Linked DNA regions of Homo sapiens: regions 2, 3, 4 and 5 are each linked to region 1. The links come from fine-mapping of genetic effects on gene expression. A gene starts in region 1. Each other region holds a variant in brackets. All regions are shown on one strand. Distances are between the middles of the regions.

What was found.
Region 2: its variant is fine-mapped to the expression of ISOC1 in whole blood (INTERVAL, PIP 0.98).
Region 3: its variant is fine-mapped to the expression of ISOC1 in whole blood (INTERVAL, PIP above 0.99).
Region 4: its variant is fine-mapped to the expression of ISOC1 in monocytes after interferon gamma (Fairfax 2014, PIP 0.95).
Region 5: its variant is fine-mapped to the expression of ISOC1 in whole blood (TOPMed, PIP above 0.99).

What each region holds. Positions count from the first base shown.
Region 1 is chr5:129,090,543-129,097,048 of GRCh38, reverse strand. It overlaps ISOC1 (isochorismatase domain containing 1), which reads right to left and starts at 2,300. Exons shown (of 5, transcript NM_016048.2): 1 at 1,974-2,300. The coding sequence starts at 2,282. LOC124901060 (a long non-coding RNA gene) reads left to right here and starts at 270. Exons shown (of 2, transcript XR_007058926.1): 1 at 270-500; 2 at 1,650-4,123. RefSeq lists a silencer at 1,903-2,682.
Region 2 is chr5:128,887,617-128,894,122 of GRCh38, reverse strand. All of the region lies in intron 6 of LOC105379168 (a long non-coding RNA gene), which reads right to left. Among named protein-coding and RNA genes, the nearest start is that of SLC27A6, 75 kb to the left of the region's middle. The variant G/T (reference allele first, on the strand shown) is at 2,971.
Region 3 is chr5:128,917,179-128,923,684 of GRCh38, reverse strand. The region is part of intron 6 of LOC105379168 (a long non-coding RNA gene); the gene reads right to left. Among named protein-coding and RNA genes, the nearest start is that of SLC27A6, 45 kb to the left of the region's middle. The variant G/A (reference allele first, on the strand shown) is at 3,469.
Region 4 is chr5:129,122,219-129,128,724 of GRCh38, reverse strand. No RefSeq gene overlaps it. Among named protein-coding and RNA genes, the nearest start is that of MIR4633, 28 kb to the right of the region's middle. The variant AG/G (reference allele first, on the strand shown) is at 2,603.
Region 5 is chr5:128,896,363-128,902,868 of GRCh38, reverse strand. All of the region lies in intron 6 of LOC105379168 (a long non-coding RNA gene), which reads right to left. Among named protein-coding and RNA genes, the nearest start is that of SLC27A6, 66 kb to the left of the region's middle. The variant A/T (reference allele first, on the strand shown) is at 2,714.

The sequences.
Region 1 (6,506 bases):
ATCTCCTATACCAAGCAAAACACTGCAAAAGCTACAGGTGACCAGAATTATATAACGCCTTTTGAGAATGTACAAGCGTTTTCAGGTACATACATTTCATTAATTTCTAGAATGTTTTTAAGAGTTGCCAGACCAAGGCCCTGAAATTTTCAAATATAAAAATCCTATCTTGGAAGGCGGGGACTCTTACAGAGCTGGGGCCTAGTTTAGAATAGCATTATCTTAGATAAGAGCCCAGCCTCCCTCCAAGCCGTAACAGGAAATGCTTCATAAAGAAGTCTGCATCCTTAGTCCCAGACCTCCGCAGTTAGTATTTGGATTCTAGCCTTTATAAATGGACTTCTCAAAGGTGCATCCAACATCTGAGTATTCTGGCAGCAGTAACGTAAAAGGACTGACAAGGAAGGCTGCAGAGAGGTGTCAGACACGAAAACGCTTGAAGACATAAAAATGAGGAGTCTTAAGCACCTAAGAACTGCAATTCCCTATCTGAGCAGCAGGTAAGATTCTGGGGTATCAGATCACTGTATCCAGTTCCAGGTTCTCCACTGGCAGAGAGTGCAGTCTCTGACTTTGTCCTCTGAATGCAGGAACTTTATCGAAGCTAAAGTACCTGCTTTGGACACTTCTGGCACAGGTGTTGGGGTGACAGGAAACATCATCAATTCAGCTGCCAACTACAGCGGAAAAAAACTAGGGAATAATCCTCAGAAAATGGCACTGTTAATGGGTACAAAAAACACAGATAATAGGAATAAGCTCTAGTGTTCAGTAGCACAATAGCGTGACTATAGTTAACAATAATTTATTGTATATTTCAAAATAACTACAAAAATGAATTTGGAACAAAGAAATAAATGATAAATGTTTCAGGTAATGGATATTCCAATTACCCTGATTTGATCACTACACTGTATGCTTGAATCAAAATATCACGTCTCCTATAAATATGTACAACTATTATGTGCCCATAAAAACTAAAAACAAAAAAGAAAGAAAATGACACTTAAATATTAAAATACCTTTTATCCCCGAATCCCACATTTCAGTTTGGTCTTCTGAAAAAATGACTTATCAGTTTCTCAGCTAAAGAAATGATATCGACAGTGTACTACCTAAATTATACCTTATATTCTTTCCTTTCCAAAATATAAATTCGCCAGTGAACAATCTGATCCTAAAGAGGGCGGAAGATTAACCCGCCTAGCATGAGAGCACAGCTTAAAATAAATGCTGTTAAGTAGTCCTCAGGTAGAACAACTTTCCCAGCCAGCAGGCCCAGGAACTCAAGGTCTAGCTTAAGTTGGGTATTTGTATTCAAGAAGGAATTACAATCATGGAGTCAAATGACTTTTTCAATGCAGACGACAAAACGTAATCAAGTCAGTAGACACTTTACTAAGAGGAGGCTAAGCAAATGGTTATTTGCTTAAGGTTAGGGAACTCTTAAGCCCAAGGACCTGAGAGCCTGGGAAGGCGGGGGGGAATGGGTTTGACTCCCAAAGTTTGCGTTTCCGCAAGTGGTTAACACAACTCTAGGAACAAACCCTAAGACCAATACTCCCCACAATCTCATTTCCCCCCATTCTGCATCACCCATCACCCCAAAATAAAAACAGCTACTACAGCACAGCCCTTTGGTTACGCAGGAGGCTGGGACCTGATCCTGGCATAAAAAGCGGATGCGGGCGACCGAGGACCACACACGTGGGGGCGTTCGCGGGCGCTGAAACCAGCTACGAGGCCCACGCCCCCGCCGGGGACAGCTGGTGACCATCACCTTTGGACAGGGGCATTCCCCAGCCGGCCCCGGAACTTGCGAAAGACGCGCAGCCCTTCGGACTCAGCCACTCGCGCAGGGCCCGGGTCCCGGGCGGCTCGGGGCACCTGAGGAGCGCGGCGAAGGCGGGGACAGGGACGGGGACGGGGACGACTCGGGAACAGGGAAGCGCGCGGCCTCCCGCAGGACCCACCTGGATCTGCAACGGCACGAGGCGCACCTTGCAGCGCTCGCTCACCGCGAAGCCCTTGGGCAAGTCCACGTACTGGCCCCACTCCTCGGCGAACAGCTGCACCACGAATTTGCGGTGCATGTCGATCTGGTCGCCGTACAGGCTGAGGAACTTCTGGATGAGCAGCTCGTAGCCCGCCCCGTGTGGCACCGACGAGGGTCGCGCGAAGACTGAGAAACAGAAGAGCACCGGGACTGTGCCCGACGGCGCCCCCGCGCCCCCGGCGCCGCTGTTGGGGAGCGCAAGGACCGCCGGCTCCGCAGCCGCCATGTTCCCCCGAGCGTCTGCGAGCTCCGAGGCCGCCCAGTCGCACCCAGCCGGCTGCCGCGGCCCCGCCTCCCGGCGATGCCAGCCCGCCCGCCAGCTCGCGGAGGCGAAGGGGCGTGTCCTGACGACCGCTGCTCGCGCGCTCTCTTACCCGCCCCGGAGGGCGGGCCGCGGCGTAAGGGTGGGTGGTGGGGCCGGGGTGCGCGCGTGAGCCAGGGAGCGCCTGCGCTCGCCGGCCGGGTCCGCCCCCTCCAGCTTCCCGGGCCGCTGCGTTCCCGCAGTTCCCCGCTCGCGCCCTTTCTGCCGCGGTTCTGACTGCCGGCAGAACGCCTAGTGGTCTCGCAGACCCAAGACCCGCCTGGGCTGCCCGTTGTTCTTGCCCCGGTGCTGCAGCTCACACAAGGGTTTGTACCACCCTTCCCCTAACGCTGGCCCTCTTCGCGGCTTCGCTCGCCTTCGAATGAGCAGTGTTCTTGGCAGTCTAGGGTTGTGGTTGGGTACACAGAGCCGCCAGGACGAGTTACCTGTTGGCTCTGTGCAGAAGCATGCAGTCCTCCTCGAGATGGCAGTGGTATCTTACAACCAAAGGGACAGTCCGATAGATACCCTAAGAAGAGCAGCAGAATTTAATCCTTAGAGGGCCAGTCAAGGTTCAAGTTTTGTCTTTTTTCGGTCCCACAGAACACAATATCTCTAGGAATGGATTTGATATCTGGCCTCCCTTCATCTCAACCTATTTCTGGGAGGACTTGGATTTGGGAATATAAATACTATTAAAAGCAAAAATCTGAACTTTATATTGAAACTAAGGATATCTGTTTTTAAGTAAGTAAAAGGGATCACTTTCAAATAAAACAATCCTCTGCCTTCTGCACACTGTAAGGCGCTATAATTAACTGGAATTAGAAAGCATGCATTATGAACAGAATTTCCTTGGAATTGAGTCCTGCGAAGATAGGCATGGGCCTAAACATAAAATTAGATTTTAGGTATTAAAGCTGTCCTCTTCTAAGAAAATAACCTTTAAAGCAGGGTTTCCCAACTGACACTGTTGACTTCTGGAATGGACATTTCTCTTTCTTGGGGATGGGGCATCTTGTGCATTTGCAGGATATTTAGCAGCATCACCGGCTTCTACTCCCGCTAGATGCCTAGTGACCGCTCCTCCCTCTAGTTATGGCAATCAAAAATGTTTCCAGACATTGCCAAATATTCCCCAGAGGGCAAATATACCCCCTACTTGAGAACCACACTGCTTTAAAGTTATGAAAAGACCATCCTTTGGTGTTTCTTGCTCAATTGTACCGAAGCTACTAGAAATAGCCATTTTTTTCTGGTTCTCATCACACTTTGAGAGATCCCATTTAAAAGTGTTGTCTGAACCCGTCAGACCCAAAATGATATTTTTTTCCGGATACCACTCCATTGCAAGGTCTTCTATATGCAGATATGCTGATTTGTGCTAATAAGTGTACCCCCTCAAGACCTGATTACCAAAAGGTACCTACCTATTTTGGGTGGACTAATAAAAGTGTTCCTTCCACCCTGTAAAGCCTCCTAACACAGAGTAGGTTGGAGATTAGAGATTGGCCTAGACTTCAGACATCCTCAGCGAGGACCTTGGCATCTACACAGTCTTCTGCCGTGGCCCTCATGGCCGTGAGTCAACATACTTCATTTCCCTTTCATGTTTTTAAATTAGGTTTCTGACCCTTCAGTAAGGAAATCAACTTCCATATATATTGTGCTGTCTGAGATTGGTCCTTGACAACCTAGTTTAATGGTGCAATCATTGTGGTAATAGCATGTTAAATAACATTAATAAAATAGATATTTGATGGGCACATTTACCATTTATTGAATATCAACTGTGTATCAACCTCTGCATCACTGGGCTGCAAAAGGGAGGTGAATGCACATTTCAGTGATAAATTATTATCCTCAGAAATACAATTATTAAGATAATTTTTATAAATGTTACCAGAAAAAGTGAGTAAGACCCCATAAATGAATATTCAAATGACAAGTAGAAAATAACTGTTCTAATTGACAAGATCATATTATGGACCAAATGCCCAAAATTTTCTCATATAGGACTCTCAGTAGCTTTATTAGTTAATGTTAAATGCTTACTTTTAGAATCTAAATTCCAAGAAAATCAAGAAGGTATATTACACAGTATTGATTAATACATTAATATGCTACAGAAACAAACCCCAAAATCTCAATAGACTGATAAAACAAAGGCTTATTTCTCACCTTTCCCAGTTAACAGCAACATTTGACAAACCAATTACTCCCTTTATTTTGAACCATATTCACTTTGTCTTTGGGATACCACTCTCTCTTATTTCTCCTTCCACCTCACTTCAAGCTCGTTTCCTATGTTCCTCTCATTCCCCAAACCTCTATAAATACAAGTATACCAGAGCTCAGTCCTCACATCTATTATCCTAAGACTGTGGCTTTAAATATCACCCATATACCTTTGACTTCCAAATTTTTAACATCCAGGCCCTCACTCTGCACTCCATACTCATACACAAGTGCCTATTCGACATCTCCACTTGGATATTCAATAGATACCTCACATTTAAATGTACTAACAGAACTCTTAGTTTTCTTCTGTCCTCGAATATTTTCTCTCCCCTGTTGATATCTAGGCAAATGGCAACCCCGTTTTAGTAACTGAGTACAATAACCAGGGGTTTATCCTTTAATTTACTCCTCTTTCTGTCCTTGTCCAGTCTATCAGCAAGACCTGGTGGTCAGAACCAAATTCCTCTCATTCACACCAGTGCCACCACCTAAGACAAAACCACTGTCGTCTTCCATCTAACTGTAACTCATCATAAGTTGTGCCCAATATTTGACTTTTGTATCCCTATTTATCCATTTACCTCATTTACATAGACTTTTATACTCCATTTACCACACGGCTATTAGAGTGGCACTTTTTCAAAAACATAAATTTAGAGCGTGTCACTGCTGTGTTCAGAATCCTCCAGTATATAAAAATAGACCTCAAGACAATCTAGATGTTAGGATTAAGAGAAAAAGAACTTTAAAGAAGTTGTTACAAGTATATTCAAGGTCTTAAAAGAAAGGGTAGCCATAAGACTGAGCAGATAGGGAATACCAGCAGGGAGATGGAGATGACTGAAAACATAGCCAAATGTCACTTTTCAAGCTAAAAGTGCAATGTCTGGAGTGAAATGCTCACTGGGTAATCTAAACTTCAGATTATAGGTTCCAGAAGAAATGATTAGTGAAATTGCATGCAGAGTACTAGAAATTATCCAATGTGAAGAACAGGAAGAGATTGAAAAAAGTATGATGACAGTTTTAGTAACCTGGAGGGCAATATCAAATGATCTAATATGTAGTTGGAGTCCAAGAGGGAGAGATGAGACAAGAATGGAACAGAAAGAATATTGGAAGAAATAATAGCCAAAATAGCACTGTCTATTAAGTCTTCAGTGTGCTGATTTTTATCTCAGAGTCTGCTTTCCAGGGAAATCAACCTGTGACATTTGTTGCTAGGAAAGATGAAAGGAGGCCAATGTGGATGGATTTTGGAGCTGGGTCACCCACTGTTGGGCAGATAATGAATACCTAACCACTAATATCTGTGGAGCACAGATAGCCCCTGGCAGTTTTTTTAAACTTCCAGCAAGATGAACTAGAATCATATACTACTGGAAAGGAATGCCTTCACTGTAATTAAGAATTTGAAAAATATGGAGGAAATACTAATTATAAGAATAAAGGAATTGAATGACAGTTTCAAAGTTTGATTGATGCTCTAGAAAAAGACCAAAAAAAAGATAGTTGGCAACTAAAAGCTAAGTGTGAAGGCTGGAAGAACTTTTTGGCAGCATTGAGTCTCTCAGTTCCTGCAATAAGAAGAGAGAGAAAGCTGAGGACCAAGACTAGGACTGAAGGTAGCAGAGCTCCAAAGAAGGTTAAACTCTTAAAAAATGCATATTTTCTATGCCAAGGTCAGGACTCTGGTTGAGAAATGGGACCGTGACACATGGGATAAAGTTGATGACACTGAAAATTATGAGTCCTTCGATTCTTTTAATTGATCTGGTCTTTAGAAATGACTTACTCTTTTCTTAATGACTAGCATTCCCTCATTTCTTGAAGGCAATGCAAAGCCTTTTCTCTAGCAAGACATTAGCTTTCCCAGGCTCTTCCCTCTCCTTCCCTCCTGATACCTAT
Region 2 (6,506 bases), 200 kb after region 1:
TTTTTGTTTATTTATGCAAAGTGTTAAGTTGTTACCATATTAAAATAATGGGCTATGAGATAGTATTTGCAAGTCTCATGGTAACCTCAAACCAAAAAACATACAATGGATACACAAAAAATAAAAAGAAAGAAGTTAAATCATACCACCAGAGAAAATCACCTTCATTAAAAGGAAGACAGGAAGGAAAAAAAGGGAAGAAAGAGAAGACCACAAAACAACCAAAAAACAAGTAACTTATCAATAATAGCATTTAATGTAAATGGACTAAACTCTCGTCAGAAGACATAGAATGGCTGGATTGATAGAAAAACAAGACCCATTGATTCCGTTGCCTACAAGAAATACGTTTTACCTGTAAAGACACATACAGGCTGAAAATAAAGGGATGGAAACAGATATTCCATACCAATGGAAACCAAAAAACAGCAGAAGTAGCTATACTTATATGAGAAAAAAAATAGATTTCAAAATAAAAACTGTAAGAAGAGACAAAGAAGGTCACTATATAATGATAAAAGAGTCAATTCAACAAGAGGATATAACAATTATAAATACATATTCACCCAACACTGTAGCACCCAGATATATAAAGCAATTATTATTAGAGTTAAAGAGACAGACCCCAATACAATAAGAGCTGGACACCTTAACACTCCACTTTCAGAATTGGACCGTTCTTCCAGACAGAAAATCAACAAAGCAATTTCAGACTTAATATGCACTATAGGCCAAATGGACCTGATAAATATTTACAGAAAATTTCATCCAATGGCTGCAGAATATACATTCTTTTTCTCAGCACATGAATCATTTTCAAGGATAGATCATATGTTAAGTCACAAAACAAGTCTTAAAACTTTCAAAAAATTGAAATAATATCAAACATCTTCTTTGACCACAATGGCATAAAACTAGTAATCAATAACTAGAGGAATTTTGGAAACTATACAAATACTTGGAAATTTAACAATATGCTCCTGAATGACCAGTGAGTCAATGAAGACATTAAAAAGGAAATTTAAAAATTTTTTTAAACAAATGATAATGAAAACATAACATACCAAAACCTATGGGATACAGTGAAAGCAATAATAAGAGGGAAGTATATAGTTTAAGACCTAGCTAGAGCAATCAGACAAGAGAATAAGTGCCTACATCAAAAAAGAGGAAAAACTTCAAATAAACAACCTAGCGATGCATCTTAAAGAACCAGAAGGCCAGGCGTGGTGGCTCACGCGTGTAATCCCAGCACTTTGGGAAGCCGAGGCAGGTGGATCACTGGAGCCCATGAGTTCAAGAGCAGCCGGGGCAACATGACAAAACCCTAACCCTACTAAAGACACAACAAGTATCTGGGTGTGGTGGCGTGCACCTGTAATCCCAGCTGCTCGGTGGGCTGAGGCAGGAGAATTGCTTGTACCCAGGAGCTGGAAGTTGCAGTGAGCCAAGATTGTGCCACTGCACTCTGGCCTGGGAGACAGAGCAAGACTTCAGAAAAAAAACGAACTAGAAAAACAAGGGCAAACCAAACCCCAAATTAGAAGAAAAGAAATAATGAAGATCAGAGCAGAAATAAATGAAATTTACATGAAGAAAACAACACAAAAGATCAATGAAACAAAAAGTTGGTTTTTTGAAAAGTTAAATAAAATGAACAAACCGTTAGCCAGAATATTAATAAGAAAAATGGAGAGAGGCCCTAAACAAATAAATCAGAGATGAGAAAGAAGACATTACAACTCATAACACATAAATTCAAAGGATCATTAGTGGCTACTATGAGCAACTATATCCCAATAAATTGGAAAATCCAGAGGAAATGGATGAATTCCTAGATACATACAACCTACCAAGACTGAACCATAAATAAATCCAAAACCTGAACAGACCAATAACAAGTTATGAGATTGAAGCTGTAAGTAAGTCTTCCAGCAAAGAAAAAACCCAAGACCCAATGGCTTCACTGCTGAATTCTACCAAACATTTAAAGGAGATCTAAAATCAATACTGCTCAAACGATTCTGAAAAATAGAGGAGGAGAGAATACTTCTGAATTCATTCTGCAAGACTGAAATTACACCAATACAAAACCAAACAAATAAATACAAAAAAGAAAACTACATGTCAATATCAGTGATATGAGAAAATCCTCATTAAAATACTAGCAAACTGAATTCAACCCCACGTTGAAAATATCATTCATCATGACCAAGTGGGATTTATCCCAGGGATGCAAGGATGGTTCAACATATGCAAATCAATCTATGAAATTTATGCAATATATCATATTTTATGTCAACATTATATATCAATAACCTATGAAGGATAAAAACCATATGATCATTTCAATTGATGCTGAGAAAGCATTTGATAAAATTCAACATCTTTTTATGATAAAAACCCACAAAAAGCTGGGTATAGAAGGACCATACTTCAACAAAATAGAAGCCATATGTGACACACTCACAGCTAGTATCATACTGAATTGGGGAAAAACTGAAAGCCTTTCCTTTAAGATCTGGAACATGACAAGGATGCCCACTGTTACCACTGTTATTCAACATAGTATTGGAAGACCTAGCTAGAGCAATCAGACAAGAGAAAGATATAATAGGCATCTATATTGGAAAGGAGGAAATCAAATTATCCTTCTTTGCAGATGATATGATCTTTTATTTGGAAAAATGTAAAGACTCCACCAAAAAATTATTAAAACTGATAAACCAATTCAGTTAAATTGCAGGATACAAAATCAACATACAAAAATCCGTAGCATTTCTATATGAAAACAGTGAACAATCTGAAAAAGAAATCAAGAAAGTAATCCCATTTATGATAGCTACAAATAAAATTAAATACCTAGAAATTAACCAAAAAAGTGACAGATCTCTCTAATGAAAACTTTAAAACATTGATGAAGGAAACTGAAGACGACACACAAAAAAATAGAAAGATATTCCAAGTTCA[G/T]GGATTGGAAGAATCAATATTGTTAAAACGTCCATACTACCCAAAGCAGTCTACAGATTTAATGTAATCTCTATCAAAATACCAATGTCATTCTTAAGAGAAATAAAGAAAATAATCCTAAAATTTATATTGAATCACAAAAGACCCAAAACAGCTAAAGCTATTCTTAGCAAAAAGAACAAAACTGGAGGAATCACATAACCTGACTTCAAATTACACTGCAGAGCTATAGTAACCAAACAGCATAGTACTGGCATAAAAACAGACACATAGACTAATGGAACATAATAAAGAACCCAGAAACAAATCCACACACCTACAGTGAACTCATTTTCAACAAAGTTTCCAAGAACACTCACTGGGAGAAAGGACAATATCTTCAATAAATGGAAAAAGATATCCATGTGCAGAAGAATGAAACTTGATCTGTATTGCTTGCTTTATACAAAAATCAATTCAAAATGGATTAAAGACTTAAATATAAGACCTCAAACTATGAAACAACAACAAAAACACATTGGGGAAACTCTCCAGGACATTGGAGTGGACAATGACTTCTTCAATAATACCCCACAGGTGCACTCAACCAAAGCAAAAATGGACAAATGGATCACATCAAGTTAATAAGCTTCTGCATAGCAAAGTAGACAATCAACAAAATGAAGAAACAACCCACAGAAGTGGAGAAAATATTTGCACCACCCATCTGACAAAGGATTAATAACTAGAATATCTAAGGATCTCAAACAATTCAATAGAAAAGAAATTTCATAATCTGATTAAAAATGAACAAAAGATCTGAGTAGACATTTCTCAAAAAAAGACATAGAAATGGCAAGCAGGTATATGCATAGGTCTCAATATCACTGATATCAGAGAAAGGCAAATCAAAATTATGGGTTATCTCACCCTAGTAAAATAGCTTTTATCCAAAAGACAAGCAATAACAAAAGCTGGTGAGGATGTGGAGAAAAGGGAATCCTACATTGTTGATGGGAATGTAAATTAGTACAACTGCTACAGAGAACAGTTTGGAGGTTCTTCAAAAAACTAAAAGTTGTGCTAACATATGATTAAGCAATACCACTCCTAGGTACATACACCCCAAAAAGGAAATCAGCATATTGAAGAGATATCTGCAGTCCTGTGTTTATTGCAGCACTATTCACAATAGACAAGACTTGAAGCAACCTAATTGTCTATCAACAAATGAACAAATAAAGAAAATGTGGTACATATACACAACAGAATACTATTCAGCCATAAACAAGAATGAGATCCTGTCATTTGCAATTACATGGATGGAACTGGAGGTCATTATGTTAAGTGAAGTAAGCCAGGCATGGAAAGACAAACATCATACATTTTCACTTACCTGTGGGACCTAAAAATTAGAACAATTGAACTCATGGAAATAAAGAATAGAAGGACAGTTACCAGAGGCTGAGAAGGGTAGTGGGGATGGTGGGCAGGAAGTAGAGATGATTGATGGGCACAAAAAATTGTTCAGAAAAATAAATAAGACCTGGTGTTTGCTAGAACAACAGAGTGACTATAGTAAAAATACTTTAATTGTACATTTAAAAATCACTAGAAAAGTATAATTGGATTGTTTGAAATTCAGAGGATGGGTGCTTGAGGTGATGGTTATGCCATTTTACCTCATGTGGTTATTATGCGTTGCATGCATGTATCAAAGCATCCTATAAATATGTACACCTACTATATATCCACAACAACTAAAAATTTTAGAATAACAACACATGATTTCTTTATAAATTGAATACCAAGAGAAACAAACACATATACTATTTGGCACAAATAGATGAGAATGGTAAAGCTATGGATATTTTAGTATAATGATGTTATATAGATGGCAGCATTCAGAAGACACAAATATAATCATATTTAATCAAATGCAACTCACCAAAAAAGATGTGAGAATTTGTTTAGTTAACACAAACAATAAAAAATTGCTTGACATTAATTTGTTATAATAGCTTTGTTGTATATTTAAAAATTGACATCATAAAATTCAAAAAGCAAATAAGAAAATTATATGCTATAAAACTCTATGTAGTAAGAAGTATTAAAATAGAGATCAGATTTTGAGTATGAATGAGGAAAATATTACTGGCTTTATTTGTAGCTTCATGTTCATTATAACTTGATGTACAATATAATTTTTTAAGTCATACTTAGTACTTTTTCAGTTTTATATGTCTACTGCTTTGGAAGTTATACATTCTAGTTCTATTTTTTATTGACTTAAAAGTTATGTGTGCATGCATTACCTAAAATCTAATAACATTTAATATCTCTGTTATTCCTAAATGACTAAGGGCTTCTTGGGCATATTAAATTACAATCACCAACCCCTTTCAGCCTTTCATACCATTATTTTAGTATTTTTTTGTTGTTTCTTTAAGCACAGTATTAGGCATTGCTATCATTTTTTAAAAACAATTAATGTTAATTTAAGTTTACCTACAAGTTCAACCATTTATTTGCACATTATTTCATCCTACATCTCAGACATCCATTTTTCTTTCAAAATTTCTTTAGTTAAGGTCTACTGGTAATTAAATATAAATTTTTGGTTGCCTGAAAATGGATGCATTTCAACTTCATTGTTGAATAAAAATGTACCTGGGAATACAGTTCATGTCAACGGTTATATTTCTTTTACATCCCTCAAGTTGAAATTCACTACTTTCTAGTGTCCCCAAATATTGTTTAAATTCTCAGTCTTATTTACAATCTGTCTTTATATCCTGTCTGAAGATCTTTACTTTGCAGTTTTCCTATGATTTGCTCCTGAATCTTCATTTTCCACCAGTTCTGTAAGATTCTCTATCCCTTTAAATATTATCTCTTCTTCTCAATTACTTTCTTTGGGACTCCAGTTAAACATATATTAGACATGTTCATTCTATCCACTACTTAGCTACTCTTATATTCTTCATCTCTTTTTCTCACAACTTTGCATTCTGAGTAATTTCTCCATATCTTCTGCTTTATTAATTATCTTATCACTAGTCAATCTTTCATATTACTCTAAATTTCCATCTGATATTATATTCTTTCTCCCAAAGAATATGCTTTGCTATTTTAAAAATACTACTTTGATCATGATTTCTTTAGTTGAAAATGTCTTATTTTCCTTCTTTCTTGGAATAAGGTTTGCATGAGACCATAATTTGATTTTGACCATTTTTTTTTTAGCTGTTTGAATATAACCTTCCCTTGTTTTCTGGCTTTTCTTATTTCTTAAGAAGTTTGTCAACAGTTAGTCAAACAGGTGCTCCTTCAATAGTAATCTGATATTGTTTCCTATCCATTTTTGAAATTTTTTCTTTGTATCTTTAGTTTTTAAATATTTTTATTATATGTCTGGGTGGGGTTTTGTTATCCCACTTGGAGTTCATAAACCTGTAGCTTGAATCTTTTTCAGTTATGGAAAATGCTTAGGCATAATCTCTTCAACTATGGCTTCCACTCTTTTCTCTCTTTATAGGACTCCAACTATATTTGTG
Region 3 (6,506 bases), 170 kb after region 1:
TTTCTCTCACTAAGCATGTTTTCAAGGTTCATAATGTTGCAACATGTAGAAGTATTTCATTTCTTTTTATTGTGGAGTAATATGCCATTATATCGATATTACCACATTTTATTAGTTGATGGACATTTAAGTTGTTTCCACTTTTGGGTTATTATAGATGCTGCTGCTATGAACAATCACTTAGAAATGTTTGTGTGGACATGTTTTTATTTTTCTTGGGTATATACCTAGGAGTAGAATTGCTAGATCATGTGGTAACTCTATGTTTAACGTTTTGAAGAAGCTCTAGGCTTTTCCTAACTGTTTTTCAAATTTTATATTCCCACCATCAGTGTATGAGGGCTCCACTTTCTCCAAATCCTCCCTAAAAATTTTTATTTTTGGTTTCTTTGACTATAGTCATTCTAGGAGGTGTGAAGTGGTATCTCATGGATTTCAATTTGCATTTCCCTGATAAATACCAGCATTAAACAAAAGGATGTTTGTATATATTCTTTGAAGAAATGTCTATTTGGAACATTTGCCCTTGTTTAAACTGGATTATTTGTCTTCTTAATTATGGAGTTGTAATTGTTCTTTATATAGTCTAGATACAAATCCCTTTTCAGATACATGCTTTGAACATTTTTTCTGTCATTCTATGGGTGTTCTTTCCACTTTCCTGATGGTGTAATTTGAGTATGAAATAGTTTGATTTTGATGATACCTATTTTTTCTTCATTTCTTGTATCTTTGGTGTCATCTCTAAGAAACCATTCCCACATCCATAGGTATAACAAAGATTTATACCTAAGTTTTTAAGAGTTTGATATACATGTTTTCTAAGAGTTTTATAGTTTAAGCTCTTATATTTAGGTCTCTGATCAATTTTGTGTTAATTTGTGTGTGTGTGTTGTAAGCTAAGTATCCAACTCAATTTTTTAATGTGAATATCCAGTTGACCTAGCACCATTTGTTGAAAACACTATTCTCTACCCATTGGATGGTCATGACACCCTTTTAAAAATTAATTTATTGTAAATGTGAGGGTTTATTTCTGGACTATTTCATTGATCTATATGTCTATTTTTAGACTAATACCATACTGTTTTGATTACTATAGATTTGAAGTAAATTTTAAAATCAGGAAGTGTGAGTCTTTCAGCTCCATTCTCTTTCAAGGTTGTTTGGGCCATTCTAGATCATCTGCATTTCCAAATTAAATTTAGGATCACATTGTCAATTTTGGCAAAGAAGTCATCCAGGACATTGGTAGGAACTGAATTAAATCTGTATCTCAATTTGGAGAATACTGTCATCTTAACAATGTTATCTTCCAATCCATTAACATAAAAAGTCTTATCATTTATTTAGGTATATTGTAATTTCTTTCCACAATATTCTGTAGTTTTTAGAGTATAAACTATATATTGCTTTTAAAAATTTATTTGTAAGAATTTTGTTCTTTTTGGTGCTATTATAAATGGAATTGTTTTCCTAATTTTATTTTTGTTCTGCTCATTTCTTGCAAAATATCTTATCCAGCTGTAGAAAACAAATAACATTTTATGAATGCATTTTTAACTAGGCTTTTACTGACTTAATTTTATGTTTCTGGGGTTGTATTTTTTCTTTCTACTTTTTCTATGAACATTTGAATAATCTTACTATATTTTATATAGACTTATTTAAATTATTTGGAGTCAAAGCTCAGTATAAATAATAAAATAATTAATCCAGGTACTGTATTGAACTGGTTTACAAATATACATAGAACTGAGAATATTTTGACCTTCTTCATGATCACATCACAAATTTTCCTCCACCTCCCACTTTTAAGTCATTTTTCCATTTTTATAAAGACAAAATAATTATAAATATAATCTGCTCCAGTATATATATCTGACACTAAATTACTAAGTAGCACATTTAAAAGCTTGTTTTCATTTTATAATTTACAGAAACAGGCTTGATAGTGTTTATTCCTTAAAACTGTTAATAGTTTGTTTATAGTAATTTTTAAGGTTTTTCCTCAAAAACAAACATAGTAAAATGAAAATAATCATTTGTAAGTAAAAGCGAGTATATTAACAATTTTTTCAATCATTCCAAACAATGTGTATTAGGATCACTTAAGAAATGGATTATTAATGTACACGGAAGAGTTTTGCTACCCTGAAATACACATTTGACTTTTTTTGCTTTTCCTTGAATTTTAAAAATTGAATGTCTTGAGGCATTCTGAATTAAACAAGAGTAATTGCTATGTACGAATTATTTGCCTAAAATGGTTACTTACTTCTTTGCAAATTCACATGGAATTTACTGAGCACAAATTAATTAAGTAATACATCTCATTTCATGTCTCGTGTTCCTGATATTTTATTCCCATTTAGAAAGAACTTAGGTGATAAAGAAATTTTCCTCTGGTAAAATCTAGAATGAGTACCCAAAATACACAATGACCATATCCCTATACATTGGGGGAGTTCTGCCATTAACTGTGTAACTAGCCAAAGGTGAAATTGAAGGACAGAGACACAAGGCTGGGCCTGAGCTACTGGACAATGGACCTCACTCTTCAGGCAGACCAGTGGTTCTCAATTAGGGAGATTTTGCCCTGACGCATATTTGGCAATCCCTGCACACATTCTTGATTGTCACAATTAAGGTGCCAAGTGGTAGAGTGGCAGGGCTTGGGAAGAGTAATTGAGAGGGAGGTACACTACTAGCATCTAGTGGGTAGAGACCAGGCATGTTGCTAAGCATGCTACAATACACAGGACAGTGCCCCACAACAAAGAATTATTCTGCCCCAAATATCAATAGTGCCCAAGTTGAGATTCTGATGCAGACAGAAAATAAACTGCTCTATCCAAATTCTCTGTTTTCTGCTTCTAATGAAAATCATTATCTATTGAATTCCAGGCAGCATGCCAGGGCTTTGACACTGAGTCATTTTCTCTTTTAACTTTATTTACATAATATCAGCTCACCTTTATGTTATTTATTCTAGTTAGGTGTTTTTCAGAATAATTACAATAATTTGCCCAAGTTTACACAACTAGAAAGTTACCAAGCCTGGATATGGACCCATATCCAGACTGACTCCTAAGTCTGTGCTTGTTTCATTGTATTCCACTGTCTCTTTCCTGGTTTATGACCACATTGTATGACTAATGGATTCACATGTTTGTGGATAGCACAGCTAAGAACATTGGAAATAAACATGGATTTAATGGTAATCGAATTAGTCATGGGAAATGGCTGTTACTCTCAAACAATTGCCCTTGAAAGTTTGTCATTTTAAGTTAGAAATCTAAGAGAATACATAAAAATATGAAGAATTAATACTTATTTCTTCAATTTTCTCTGCTAAATGGATTTGAATGACTCATGAATTTGTTTCTAAGAGTCATAAAACTGTGCTAAATTGACATATGCTTTTAGAACTTTTAGACATTTAAATAAAACATTTGTAAGACAGTT[G/A]ACACTTGAACAACATGGGTTTGAACTGTGCTGGTCCACTTTATACCTGGATTTTTTTCAACCATGCGCTCAGATGAAAATGCATTCTTTGCAGGATGCAAAACCTGCCTTATATAGAGGGTGTGATTTTTTTCCATAGATGGATTTCACGGGGCTGGCTGCAGGACTTGAGTATGTGTGAATTTTGGTATGTGTGGGGGTCCTAGAACCAATCCCCTGCTTATACTGAGAGACAGCTCTATATGATGATTCCATACCTAGGATATCTTTATTTCATCTCTGACTACCAAATTATAGATTTAGGCAAGATGATGCTCTACACAGATTGGACAGAATGATGCTCTACACAGAACTGATCTCAAAAAAAATTTTTTTTCCCATAAGTCTGACTATTCCTACATATCCAAAGTAATTTCTAAATTATACATGATAGCACATACACAAAAATTATTTAATTTGGTGTCATCTATTGCGTCATCTGCCACAATACTTCTTGTATATGAAAATATAAAAGCTGACATTTTTGTTCAGAAAAACTCACTTTTATTTATACCATGAACCCAAATCTGACTAGTTATAGGAAAATAAATACGCCTCACAAGCAGGGAAAAAGGTAAAAGCAGAAGGATGAGCCAGATATGAGAATATTTCTAGTTGTTTGTTAAAAGGGAGCTCAAATTAGAAAAACCAACCTTGAGAAGGAAATACAAGTGAAGTGGAAGTGGAAAGAGAAAAGCTCTTTCCAGCTGATGCTAAGCATATTTGAAACTGGGGGATACTACAGTTCCATTGCTATGCAACTGGCATTTTGTTAAAATAGAGGGCCATAAAAATAGAATTATGCTGTATTTCCATTTTGGCCAGTCAAATAGATGTTTGAACAATTGTTCTAAGCAAAGGCTTTTTACAACACACATGCAATATCTAATTCTATTATAATAGCTGCAAACATGCCTCCTTGCTAATTGTGAAAGAGTAGATTTTGGTCAGTTTTCCTGCATTGGCTACAGAGATAGTGTTGAAGAATGACACATCCTGTCTTAAGGCCATTTGACCTCATCTCTAAGATCCTCATTTCAAAGTTTAAGAGCAACTTTGAAACATACAAAAATTATGATATTCTGAGACAATCCTTAAATTGTCCTCCATTATCACCAAGGGACAGAATTCTCCACAGGAAAGTAAGTACAAGAAACAAAGTATTACGTTTACCATAGCCGGCTACACACGGGCTAAGTAAAAATTTATCCTGAGAAAGATTCATATTTTTTGTTCAATAGAATCATTGTAAATCTAATTTTAAGACCCCAAAAACATGTTTAAAAAGGCAGTACAATATTTGAGGCTCTATTTTATAAACAACCTAATGAAGTATATTTTAAATATAAGTTGAATATACTTAAAATAGAAGTATATCTTACTGTTTTTATCAAGCCCTCAACACAAACTGAGCTTCTAGTATTTTGGACTCACTAGTGTCATGTCATATGTAACATTTTCAGAAGGAAAGAGTGATCACCAAGTCAGCCTAGCACTGGAAAAGCTTAAGACTTGGAAGAAATGTCTCAACTAGTTTGGTTAAATTAAATTATTTGAGGTTAGTAGATCCACAGAGGAAAATATATTTGTCTTTATCTACACAAATGCCACTGGAGCTGGGAGACATCACTGTGTCCTCTGAGGTCAATGCTAATGTGCTTTCATGTAGACAGGCGGCCGGAGCCCTACCTGAGAAGATCCGTAAGCTTAATTCAGACTTCCTTCAGTGTTTTCCAAATAATCATAATTTTACCAAATCATATTTATGTCTTCAATTAGTTGGGTAGTCCATTCAACTTCTTGATATTCAATGTCAAGAAGAATGTACCATTTCTAGATGATTATGAATGGCATATCAAGGCCAAATTCTGTCTAAAATGCCTTTCTTTCCAGTACACCATTGTTTGGTGAAATAAACATTACTATATTATTACTGTGGCAATAATGACATAAACACAAAGCTAAAAAATACAGTTAAAACACTAATAATGCCAGATAGGTGAAAACAAAGCAAAAATAAAAGTGAAATATCTTCCTTTGTGGTAGGCTGCATGGTGACCACCAAAACAATATGCCCATTCCCCAATCCTGTTACTATATTTGGAAAAGCAAGTCTTTGCAACATAATTAAATTAAGGATTTTGAGATGAGGAGATCATCCTGGATTATCTAGGAGGAATCTAAATCCATTGACAAGTGTCTTTATTAGAGACACAGAGAGGAGAAGACAGATGCACAGAAGAAGCAAGGTGAGATGCAATAAATTAGAGTGATGTGCCCACTAGTCAAGTCATGAAAAGGACTCTTCCCTAGAGTCTCTGTGGGGAGTGAGGTCCTTCTAGCATCTTGATTTTGGACTCTGGCCATCAGGACTGTAAGATAATAAATTTCTATGGTTTTAAACCACCAAGTTTGTGAAAATGTTACAGTAGCCCTAATGCACTTTCCAAACCATAAACACACACACACACACACACACACACACACACACACACACACTTATTCATAATCAATATATTCATTTAGGGCTTCAGCTAAATAAATCTTGACCCCTTGAAATGTTCTGCAATGTTTGGCAAATATTCCTGAGTGCTCCAAGTTCCAGTCATCATTTTCCCCCAGAGGATAGTCTCATGAATAAGAGAATCATAGCGTAAAAGGACATTGAGAATTTCTATAACCCTTTATTTTGTTTACAGAATGCTTTCTACCTCCATGCCAGATGCCCTGTTAAAGCTGCATGCTTAGAGATGGCTCACTTTCTAAAGAAGATGCTTCCACTATGGTAAGTCTATCCCTAATGGATTATGTGAAGTTGCACTGAAGATTTGCAATATGTGAAACAACTGGTTTTCTGTCTATAACTACCTTATTAAATAACCTGGGATTGATTGTAATCCTACATTTTAGCACAATTTAAACGAGGAATATTGTCTATCAGTAAACACTGATGATGATTCCTTTAAGAATAATGAAAAAAATAAATCTCCGAAGTGTCA
Region 4 (6,506 bases), 32 kb before region 1:
TAAGAGACCTGGTTGATTTAGCCATTCCTATAGCTCATTATGGGCCTACGTCATAAGGGACTGGAGCAGTGATTTTGCCCTTCACCCCATCACAATGATCTCTTGGGCTCTGTGAAAGTACTGTATATGTGGATACATCCTGTCATCCTTATTTTCTGAAAGAGTCCCTAGATGATTTTGTTGTGCAGAAGCCTTAAAAACCACAGAGAGGAAGACTACCTATTTTAAAACTAGGGCAGAAAAACCCCTTAACTCCAGCTTCAAGAGTGCTACCTGAAGACTTAATTAGAATAAATAATCAGAAAACATTCACGGCCAGATATAAGAGCTACCATAGCTTTGGTAGCAGGTACAACTCTCCCAGTGACTTTTTCTAATATGAATTATCAGATGACTATATAGTAAAAAGATTTATTGGGTGATGACAAGTTCATGTTACTGCAAAATGGGAAAAAATTGAACTAAGGCAATTAGTTGTTTTCAACCCTGGTGGCAGATTAGACTCATGTTGGTACGATTTTTAAAAACATTAATATCCAGGACTTACCATAGATCAATTAAATCAGAATCTCCTTGGCTAGACCCAGTAATGGTACATTTAAACTCTCTGGTGATTTTAATATGTAGCTATGGTTAATAATCACTGTCCAAAGGCTTAAAAGCGAGGTTCCATGAGTCACTTGATAATTATTAGGCAATGCTTCCTAAACATTTACCTTCATAGGAACCACCTGGGAATTTTGTTTAACTACAGGTCCCATCTCAGGAGTACTGAAATTGGGCTTAAGATTCTGCATTTGCCACAGGCATGATGATGCTGGTGTCATTTTGAGGTGCACACTGAGTAGCAAGGTCTGAGAGCGCTGTTTTTCAAACTTGACTTCACACTGGAATCACCTGGGGAGTTTTAAAAATAGATCAACAATATCTAGGTCCTACCTATAGAGATTCTGATTTCATTGGCAGGGAACATGACCTGGGTTTTGGATTTTTAAAAGCTCTTCAGCTGATTCTAATAGGTAGCAAATCTTGAGACCACTGCCTGAGAGTGCTTACATAGATTGAAATAGTGGTCAGACGTGGTCCCTCATGCCTGTAATCCCAGCACTTTGGGAGGCTGAAGCGGGTGGATCACCTGAGGTCAGGAGTTTGAGACCAGCCTGGCCAACATGGTGAAATCCCATTTCTACTAAAAATAAAAAAATCAGCCGGCCATGTTGGCAGACGCCTGTAATCCCAGCTACTTGGGAAGCTGAGGCACGAGAATTGCTTGAACCCGAGAAGGAGGAGCCAAGATTGCACCACTGTACTCCAGCCTGGGCAATGGAGCAAGACTCTGTCTCAAAAAAAAAAAAAAAAAAAAAAAAAGTCCAGGTGCGTTGGCTCACGCCTGTAATCCCAGCACTTTGGGAGGCTGAGGCAGGCGGATCACGACTTCAGGAGATCAAGACCATCCTGGCTAACATGGTGAAACCCTGTCTCTACTAAAAATACAAAAAATTTGCCGGGCGTAGTGGCGGGCGCCTGTAGTCCCAGCCGCTCCGGAGGCCGAGGCAGGAAAGTGGTGTGAACCCAGGAGGCGGAGCTTGCAGTGAGCTGAGATCGCGCCACTGTACTCCAGCCTGGGCAGCACAGGGAGACAAGGAAGGAAGGAAGGGAGGAAGGGAAGGAAGGAAGGAAGTAGGAAGGAAGGAGCAAAGATTCCTAAACTATGAATGAGGAAGAATGAGAAGAGTACCACTTGCAGTTGATGAGCTGCACCTCAGACTGGTCTCATGGCCTACAGACCAACATCTAAAAGTCAGGATTGTCATTTTCTTTAGAAGATTTGGAGTCTCTGTAACCACTGGGTCTGCATTTTCCTTTGGCAGCAACCAGGTGGCGCTGAGTAGAACTTGCCTGTTTAATATGTACATGCTTACTTTCCAGTGTGCCAGGCCCCACCTGTCTCATTTCATTTGTTTGGATTATCTGCCTTGCACCGTGGCCAATTGAGTTTGAGAGCTCTGGGTTAAGCAATGCCTACTGCACATTGACTCCAGGTCACTTGGCCTGACTAGAAACTCCCCAGCATAGTTATCTTTAATCAAGAGTGACTGTACATAAATCATTACCCTTCAACAGAAATTTTAGACATTGCCCTGGGACATGTATTAACAAGCCATCCTTCTTCATGGCTGATACTCAGTCGTTCTTAAGGCCACACAGCTAGTAGCAGAGCCCATAAAACAGTTCACATATGGCAACTCCTAGCCGGGTACTCTAGATACTTAACTTCTGTGTTCTGAACTATCTGAAAAAGTTCTGAGAATTAAATTAGATAACATAAGTCAAGCACTAGTCAAAGTGCCTGGCTCATAGTAAAGTGTTTGATCAATGCCAAGCTGCTTTTATTACCCATCTTGTATGCTCTTCACCTGTGCATAGGAGCTGCATAAACCGTGTATGTAGAACAGTTGTTTTTAGATAATTAGACTGTAAGCTCCTTCAAGAGATGATCAACTTGAAGGAAGATTTCCTATCCTGTTAAAGAAAAGGCCAGGAAATACTTTACACATTCAACTGATGAACCAAAACCAAAACCGAAAGAAAAAAAAAAAAA[AG/G]CTAAAGTGAAAAGGCTCTGGTCTGAAAAGCCCTAATCTATCTGAGAAGAATTTGTCATCTGACTTTCCGTAATTGTGTCCAGTTCCTCATCTTTGCACTAACCACCCTAGGTGGCCTTTATTTTATCTCTCTCATTAGACTTAGTTCCTTCAGAAACAGTAGCTCTCTCTTATCCAGACTGTCTCCAGCAGAGGGCTTCCCTTATGTAGGTAATCAATAATGCAGTACTGAAAGGATAAACAAATGAATCCATATACTCATTCTAGAGAACTCTTGGTAGCTAAAGTTTGCCTGCATTATGTTTTTTTGTGTACTAAAGTCCTTTAAAACTTCTGCCTCTACAGGCTATCGGTGACACAGCATCTTGTGCTGTTGGACAATTTTAATATAAATAAATCCCTATGCACCTGGAATTAAATATTTCTACATTCCAGTTAGCCAAAATAAGGCTTATTGGTGTGGAATCCAAATTTTATCAATAATGATAGCAGGCTTGATTTTTCCAGAACCATGCTTTGCGGTTTTGCAACTTAGTGTGCACTGAAATCATTTAACGTCCTCCCTTCCCAAGTATCTTTTTAAAATATCTTTATTGGATCTTTCAAGAGAGTAAATGTTTTCAACAGGTAAAGAGGAGATCTTGAACCTATTTTGAGAAGTGTTGACCAATCAAACTGATCTAAACATAGTACTATTTAGCAAATCCATATTTTCACAGAAATTATTTCAATATCAAAATAAAAATCTATAAAATATGCTTCAGAGAATAAGCTTTTCATTCATGAAAAATAAATTATTTCTAACATTTAAAAAATAAACATTCTAAAATAATTTTTAAAATGCTCACAACATTCTCATATCTTGTCCAGTCACTTGATTTGTTTTTTATTGAAAAGAAAATGAGGTAACATTTCTTAGTCATGCACTTACAATTGTGTTCACATTTTCTATATTAGTTCTTAAAATTATAAATGGTATCCTTCACTGAACAATTACAGTGATGAATTTTCTCTTCCAAAAATCCATTTAACACTTGTAGGCGATATTGTATTTATATTACTTGGTTATGTGAAAATTCTCTGTGGCTCAAGTTTTAGCCCCAAGCAAGCTGCAGGTTTTATTTTAAAGGAAGGTTTACAGAAGAGTATGACATTAATACTTATTCTTGAGATGAAAGGGTAGACATTTTTTGTCATTTCATGCAACTCTATTTTCTCTGTGAGAATGCTTAGAGATATCTCAGACAGACCTCTGGAAGGCTGCTAGCAAGAGCTACAAGAACCAGAACCCTGTCACAGACTCTGCCCTTTCCGCCACAGTACACTGCATCTGTCTGTTGGGAGACACTTCCCCTTGGGCTTCTTGTGGTCTTACCTATCTGGCTGGTGTGCCAAGGCTTCAAGGCCCTGAACACTTTTATCCAGGGCATTTTTATTTATGTTTATGTAGCTGATAACCTGGAGAGATGAAGTAACAGCTCCTTTTGGACAAAGAGCAGGCTTGCTTACTGCTTGCTACGAAAGCTCAGTATAAATCCACTGCATGAATGGCATCTGTCTGGCACGTACTCCCTCACCCCCATGGGACTTGGGGGGCAAGGGGAATCGATGCAAATATGCTAATGTTGATGCTGCTTGCTGTGCCATGGGTAACACAGTCCTGTTTCTGATCCTGAAATCTCATGTCTAGTGCCAGCATCCATGAAACAGTAATAGGCTAATTGATCAGCTTGTAAGAAGAGTAAAATCAAATCCAAGGCCTGAAACTGTCTGATTTTGGCTTGAAAATTCATGTTTAGAGCTCATTATCATAGCAGCTGATTTGATTATAAATACTCAAGACATAACAGATTGGTCAGTATGAAAACAGGGGCCCATATATATGTTCCCAATTCTCTGAATTCTAATAAACTCATACTAATTTACATCACAATCATTTATGTCACTGACGAATTTATATTTTACTAACCTTAATGCTAATTAACATACTCAGATACTTAGAAGAGTTAAAGATTTTTACTTTTAGATAAGTATGGAGGTATTTTCTCAGCAAAAATAAAATATGCAGAAAGTAATTTCTCAAAGTCAATGAGTATTCCCTGTAGATAAAATAAGCTATTTATCTCTGAAAGATTTGAATACATGGGTTGAGTGAGTCGACGAAAATATTTCTAAGAACATTGCATTTTTGAATGCAAATCTAAAGCAAATTAATGAAAGCTTAAAGGAAATTTTAAAAGAGCAAGATAGTTGGCATTCAGTGGAACTTCTATATTTCTTAATGAGCTCTCTAAAGAAAGAATTTAATGTAAAATCGAAGTCTTGAAAAAAACAAGTTATGTATAGCATATCTGAGATTATAGATGGTTGTCTACATATATCAAAAAGAAACTTAGAAATAAAAAGCTCCCAATATGCCACCTATGCTTCCTGCATCATCATGACTTTCTCAGAGGTTTCCCTAGTGCCTGGCAAGGTGTCTGGCTCACAGGATGGGAAAGAGTATAATACAACTGTTACAGGCACAGTTACTAAATTCTAGACTAAAATCTCAAGTTAAAATTTAAGCCTCTCCACTTCCAACCAAATGGATGATCTTGGGCTACTTATTTACTCTGTTCTTTAGCTAGATCGTAGGTTTATAAGGATTATTGAGTTAACAGATATAAAGCATTTAGGTACATGGCACATAGTAAATATCTAGTGAATAGTTCCTAATATGATGGGCACTCAAATGTTGAAATGAATTTTATTAAGTCAAAAAATCTGAAGCATAGAATTTAGAACTGCAATGAATCTTAGATATGATGAGTCTAATCTCTTTATCTTATAGATAAGAAATTTGCCCCAACTGTCAATGTTATTAAGAATGAGAGCGGGTCTGCCATTTCAATGCTTTCCATCATACAGGGCATCACATAACCACTGGCTCTTTCTCCAGCATAAAGAGGGAAATCTCCCATTTTTCTTATGTACTTTGCCAACTCCCTTCAGCAACCCCAACCATTTTTAAATTTGAAAAGGTATGTGTATATGTGTATATATATATATACAGCCATGCACTGCGTAATGACATTTCAGCCAACAAATATACCACATATATGACGATGGTCCCATAAGATCATAATGGGGCTCCTCTATACAGGTGTACCTTATCTTTTACCATATTTTTACTGTGCCTTTTCCATGTTTACATATGTTTAGATATATAAATATTTGCCATTGTGTTATATTTGCCTACAGTATTCAGTACAATAATATGCTGTACAGGTTTGTTGCCTAGAAGCCACAACACAGGCTAGGTGTGCAGTAGGGTACACTATCTTGTTTTGTGTTAAGTACACACTATAATGTTAGCACAATGACCAAGAATGAGATCATTTAATCATTCATTTCTCAGAATGTATCCCTGTCATTAGGTGTCATGACTGTATACATGTGTGTATGCAATGTTTGATGTAAACCATGCTGTCTACCTACAGAAATAAATTGCTGAATCCAATATTGACATCATGAGACACAGGTAAGTAAAACACATGTAAGTTTTGCTTGGCTGTGTGTGTCTTACTTACCTGTGTCTTATGATAAAGCACTTACTTATTGGCATACCAACAATAAAACCAAAGACATGCTAAAATTCGGGTGGTGACTAACAATTTATTCTTGAATTATTCATTCATGCTTCATTTATTCTTTCTAGAGTGTTCATTTCTTGCAAAAATACGAACATTTCAACATTATAATTTATAAAGCATTCCATATTTTTAGTTGGGGCTGCCAAACAGGCTATTTTAAAAGCACAATATGAATTTTCCAGAAGCCCAATTTAAAGCTACGTGTAATCAACATACATTAACAATGAGTGCCTATGTATTAACTATAGGTTCTGTGACAAATCACCTC
Region 5 (6,506 bases), 190 kb after region 1:
TTTGCCATTTGAGATTCTGGCTTTCAACCTTAACTTTCCTGAGATAGAATCCATTTAGTAGTGTCTCTCTTCTTTTACCTTCTGGTCCTATTCTACACTGTTTTCCAATTTTTGATGCATTTCTTGGAGGGACAAAAATCTCATAATTCCTTAAAGATTTAAAGCTAATGCTTTTTTAGAGATTTCTTTCTGTAGGGCTACTATCTAGCTGCATAGAGTCAGACCAGTTCTTTCTTAGAGCAGATAACGTTGGCTTTTTCCATTTTTTCTTTTTGAGGCCGGCCTTTTTTTTTTTTTGCATATAGGGATAATCATAAGCCAAAGTCACAATGAGAACACCTACAATGTTCTGTGTGTGTATGTGCATTTGCATGCTTGTGTGTGTGTGCCTGACTTGTGTGAGAAGTCTCTATAGGATTTCATGTGTCTGGCAGACAAGTGGCTTTATCTCTTAACACAATACATTTGTTCTTTCAGCTCTGTAAGTCCAACTTTATTAATGCCACATTTTACAAATTATATCTTTATCCCTCTAAAGTTATAGAAGACTTTAATTTTAAGAATAAATAGAAGGTTCTTAAATAAAAACATTAACTAGTCCTAAAATTATGTGGTCGATTATTAAATAATATTACCACAGCTGAATGCTTTGGAAGATTAACAATGAAGGATATAAAATGTCATATGGCCGTGATATTTATGTATTCATCTTAAGTTGTTTTAATTTTCAGTGTTCCTACGATCATAAGCATGCCTGCACATACTCTTGAATGAGGACTGGATGGTAACCATCCCTGTGAATACCATTCCTTTGTTTTTGTGCTTGTTTGAGCATGATTATCTTCTCACTAAATTCTTGGCTCTGGAGCTAGGAGCTTTGGTTCATATTTTTACTCTATAGCAATTAGTACAGTGCCAGTGTTTTGCACATAGATGATGCTAATCACTATTTGTAGCTATATTAATAGCTAACAGCTATTGATTAATAGGTAAAATATTTATATTGCGATGAAACTCACCATTTATAATTAGTGTTGCCATCTTTGAGTAAGGATAAACAATTGATACTATTTGGTTTAACAGTAAGTGAACGGCTGTGCACCCATATTCTGATGTTAACCTGAGCCTCTTGTGACAATATGTGGTTTTTTAAAAGATGGCTGCAAATTCTTTGACACTTCTCCCATTGAAGCTGAGCACAATGTCCCTTCCCCTTGAATCTGGGCCAGTCTTTGACTGCTGTGATCAAGGAATATTACAGACGCGACACTGAGCTAGTTCTAGGTCTAGCCTAAAAAGGATTGACACATTTCACTTTAGTCTCTGGGAGCCCTGGGCCAGGGCAGTAAGAAATCTGACTAACCTGAGGAAGAGAATGTGTGGAGAAGCCCAGAGGCTACGTTGGAGGGGGAGGAAGAAAGGTAGCCCCAGGAAACAGGAATAAGAGTGAATCCATGTGGACCCTCCAAACCAGAGTGGCTGCCAACTGAATACTACCACGTGACCACAGTGGATGCCACATGCAGTGGAAAAACCTCTCAGCTGAGCACTGCCTGAATTCCCAACGCACAAAACCATGAGATATAATGAGTGAGTTGTTGTAAACCACTACTTTTTGGTATAGTTTCATACCTAGCAATCAATAACCAGAACACTCTACATCTCGGTTTGCCCAGAACTGTACCAGTTTCTGCCAGTTACCTAAGACACCCTGTCATGATTTACATTTGTTCCAGATTCTTCATTTTTTACAAAATATTATTAAATACTTGTGTTAAAATAAGCTAAGGTGGGTTTGGTAGTTTCTGTTAGTCTTATTTAGAAAAGTGTGAGAATTATGGGGAATGAATACTTTCAACCTGAAACCTAATTTAAATTTAAAGACAGGTAACATAACCCCTTCTCTTTCCCTGGCACCCTCAGCCATATAAAATCTAACATTTCCCTTTCCAGGTCGGCATGCAGGGTGTTATGTTTCTGGTACATAAGTGGTGAGAGGAAGCCATCTCCTCTTGGTCTGGGTGGTGGTGGAGGGCGGAGCATTATACACTGTCTTGGTCCTATGTTGGTTTATAAAATACACAAATCTGCCAATCACCAGTCCCACATAAAACTATGCTCATAATAGATGGTGGTGAGGGGCATCTGGGGTAAAACACAGGAATGTATAGGTTAAGTATATGACAAATGTGTAGGAAATAGAACCAGAGCTGTTGTTTTATAAAATGAAGAGAGGAAGTAGCTTGTACTCTTAATATAGTGCTATTGTCATTATTACATCATATAACTCTACAATATTGATTTATTTATTGTTTCTCAATTTGTGAAATTTCACAACAAATTTTCAGCAGCAATGAGCTAAAGATGAAAGTGAATATTTCATGATAATTAAATATTGAATTTTTATTTTCCAAGAAACTAGATGACAAAAAGTAATTTGCACAAAATGTTTGTCATTTCCTATCCACCATGAGATCTCTACTGTATCACTAATATATGAAAACCAGAAGACACAGATCATCTAAAGAAGCATCAGCCATCTACCTCAAAAATTTATTATTTTGAGACTGTGCCAGAAAAAAAAATTTGTGTGTGCAGTCATAGAAAATGTGTCTACATATCAACCTGTGAAGCATAACTTTCATGTACATCAAAAGACAATTTTTTAAATTAAATACATTCAGTTTCAATTCCCAGGTTTCTTGTGAACATA[A/T]GAAAATGAAGCAATAGGTTTTAATGCATCCACTGTTAGCAAAAGAAAAACACTGTAAGCAGTTAATTAATGCTGTTTCTTTATCAGTATCATTAAGTGCTTCAAATAGAAATCAGTTAAACTCATATCAATAATCATTCAAATATTTTTCATCTAATTATTGGAATCAAAGAGAAGTTTTTAGTTCACTTCGCAAAAGTAAAACAGCTGACAATGTAGATGCTATTGTAAAATTCGTTGAAAAATTTAAAAATAAAAATATGATTTGGTAATAAAAATATGAAGAGAAATTTAGAATAAACACAGCTTCATGATAAAATAATAATCTTAAAAATAAAAGGACAATTCAGCTGGAATTGGTCATGATGAACACATAATTCAAAACCAAGTTCAAACAAGTTTCACAATTCTACTGACTGAAATGGAATATGTTAATTGTCCAAATTTACAAATTACAAATATTATTACACATATAATTGGATAAACTAATCTAAAAATCTTTGCAAGTAATCTAATGCTTAATATTTTACAAATCATTTCAGCCTTGCTGCAGATACTTTATTAATTGAATATTAATTGTAGATTAGATATATTTGAGCCTTGGAAGAACTACCTTGTAAATCAACCTTAAATTTCTATGATGTCATTGAATATTTCTGTAAGTTAATTCTTTAAAGTTTAGAAGAAATTTTCTTTAAAATAAATTGGAAACATTTAAAGTGTTCCACAAATTGAGCACCAAAAATGTTTGAAGAATTGACGTAATGCATCACCTGAAAACATTGAAACAATAAAAATCATCTTCACAGAAGCTAAAGAGGAACTGAACAAAATAGATAATGTGAGCTTAAAGAATGTACAAGATTGGCCAGGCACAGTGGCTCATGCCTGTAATCCCAGCACTTTGGGAGGCTGAGGCGGGCAGATCACAAGGTCAAGTGATCCAGACCATCCTGGCCAGCATGGTGAAACCCCATCTCTACTAAATATACAAAAATTAGCCTGGAGTGGTAGCACATGCCTGTAGTCCCAGGTACTTGGGAGGCTGAGGCAGGACAATCGCTTGAACCCGGGAGGCTGAGGTTGCAGTGAGCCAAGATCATGCCACTGCACTCCAGCCTGGTGACAGAGCAAGACTCCATCTCAAAAAAAAAAAAAAAAAAAAAAGAATGTACAAGATTACAAGATTTAAGTTTGTCATTCTACAACTGAAAATTACAACATCTCAATCTGCAGGAAGAATCTTTAATGTAGCTCCTATTTTTAATAAATTTAAATTCTATACTGGATTAAAATAAAATTAAAAAGGGCCATAGTTTGCCAAATCTGGCAAAATATTGAAAAGAAGCATACATAGGATTTTTAAATGAATTTTTGGAGCAATATTTGTCAAAGATGGTTTTCTGAATTGAGTCAAAATAACTCCTAAAATATTAAGCTGAAAAATTTCACAGTTTAAATAAAAACTAATTTAAATGGAGAAAGTCTTCCATTTAGTAGAATTTGCTCTGAACTTATTAAGCATGTCAGCTTTCATAGGCAGAATGCTTCATCAAGTAAAACTATCATAATCTACAAACAGATCAGGCAAATTCAGCATCATAAAATATAATTTTCAAGAAGATTGCAGATAATTTTATGAAAAATCAATAAGAACATTGCATTGAAAAATTATTCTCTATAAATTAACAATGACAAGGTATTAAAAGCAGAAATAGCTATAAACTGATTAAAGTATATAAAATATATGTATCACAGAATCAATTATTTTGCTTATGTTATTCTAAATTTTCAGCTAATCAATAGTTTTGTTTTAATGTAAATAAACATAGTCTATCTATGAAAATAAATTTTAAGTAGGATAATTTTTATAGTTATATCAAAAATATAAAACCAATTTACTATCCTATAAGTATTTTCAAAATGTATAACATTTTGATGATTTTAGTGCCCAAATTTGTTCTCAAAAGTATCCCAATTCGGGGTATAAATTATTTGGTTACTTTACTTATTTCTATTCTGATTTATTGTTTTTAGACACTTTACTTTGCTCATCACATAACCTCCTGCCATCATTGGCGGATTATTTTTCTTTCTTCACGCCACAGAAAAAGTCCATTTTCTTATATTCTTTTCCAGTCTAACATTCCTCTTCATTTTTCTATGTACCCAACTTTCTCGTCCCTGAACACATTTTTTCCCTTTCTGATGTCTAAGACATTGCTAATCCACTTACCTGACCTTTTGAATGTTTCTTTACTAAAACAGCCTGCAGCAATCTTCTTCATCCTTCAACATCTAGCTCAAATATTTTCTCCTCCCAGATTCCCTAAGCCACAATTAATCTCATCTCTTTTATTCTTTCCTAAGAGCTTTACTTAAACATTTGTTGGAGCATATATTTGCTTTCCATAGCAGTTAACTACATGCCCAGCTTTCTTCCTCTAAATCATTGTGTTTTTAAAACACCATATTTTCTGGTTTATTTCTGCATTTCTTCCCTTCCAGACCCTCCCTACTGTGGTACAGTGGATTAAGCAGAGTGGTGCTCTATAGTTTTTTCAACTAATTACAATCTTCTATAAATATTACTGACTTATCTAACTCTCTGTACACATGCAATCCTTACTAGTTTTATGTATTTAATGCATTAAATCTTATACCCTTTTCACAATGTGCCTTAATTGAGCGTTCTAATCCAAGCTCTTAACTATTCGCTTTCAAAAATGGCCTTCTAAGTTTTTTCTCTCAAATGGATACATTTTCCCGTTTCCTTTACCATCTCTTAGTTTTGCCCCAAAGTCTATGTAGCCTTTCACATTATAATTCTAATGCTTCTGACAAAAGATGACAATTTCTTCTCAATTTTTAACCCTCAATATTTCTCTGCACAAATGATAACACATGGAAAGGGGCAGAGCAAGGTGACAAAATAGAAAGCTGCACCGGGTGTACCCCAACAGGAACACCAAATGTAACAACTATCTACACACAAAAAGCACCTTCATAAGAATCAAAAATCAGGTGGTACTCACGGTCCCTGGTTTTAACTTCATATTACTGAAAGAGTCACTGAAAAGGGCAGGAAAGACAGCCTTGAATCAGCAATACTACCTCTCCCACCATCCTCCAGCAGCGGCAGCATGGCACAGAGAATCTGAGTACTTGGAGAGGGAGAGCACAGCAATTGTGAGACTGTTTACATTGAACTCAGTGCTGCTCTGTCATAGGGGAAACAGAACTGGGCTGTACATAGCTGATACATGCCCACAGAGGGAGCATTTAGACTGGCCATTGTCAGAGGGGAATTACCATCCCAGCGGTCAGAACATGAGTTCCAGAAAGCCTCACCACTGCAGGCTAGAGTGCTGTATATAAACTTGAAAGGCAGTCTAGGCCACAAGGACTAAAACTCCTAGGCAAGTTCTAGTACTGAGCTGGTCTCAGAGCCAGTGGACTAGAGGGCACATGACCTACTGAGACAACCGCTGGGGTGGCTAAGAGCGTGCTTGTGCCATCCCTTCCCCAACACCAGGTTGCACAGGTCACAGCTCCAAAAGAGACCCCCTCCTTCTGTTTTAGAAGAGGAGAGAGAAGGGCAAAGAGGACTTTGTCTTACATCTCGGATACCAGCTCAGCCATAGTATGATAGGGCACCAGGCAAAGTTGAGAGGCACCCATTCCAGGCCTTAGCTCCTGGACAACATTTCTAAATACACCTTGGGCCAGAATGGAACCTGCTGCCTTGAAGGGAAGGGTCCAGTCATGGCAAGACACATCACTTGCTGAATAA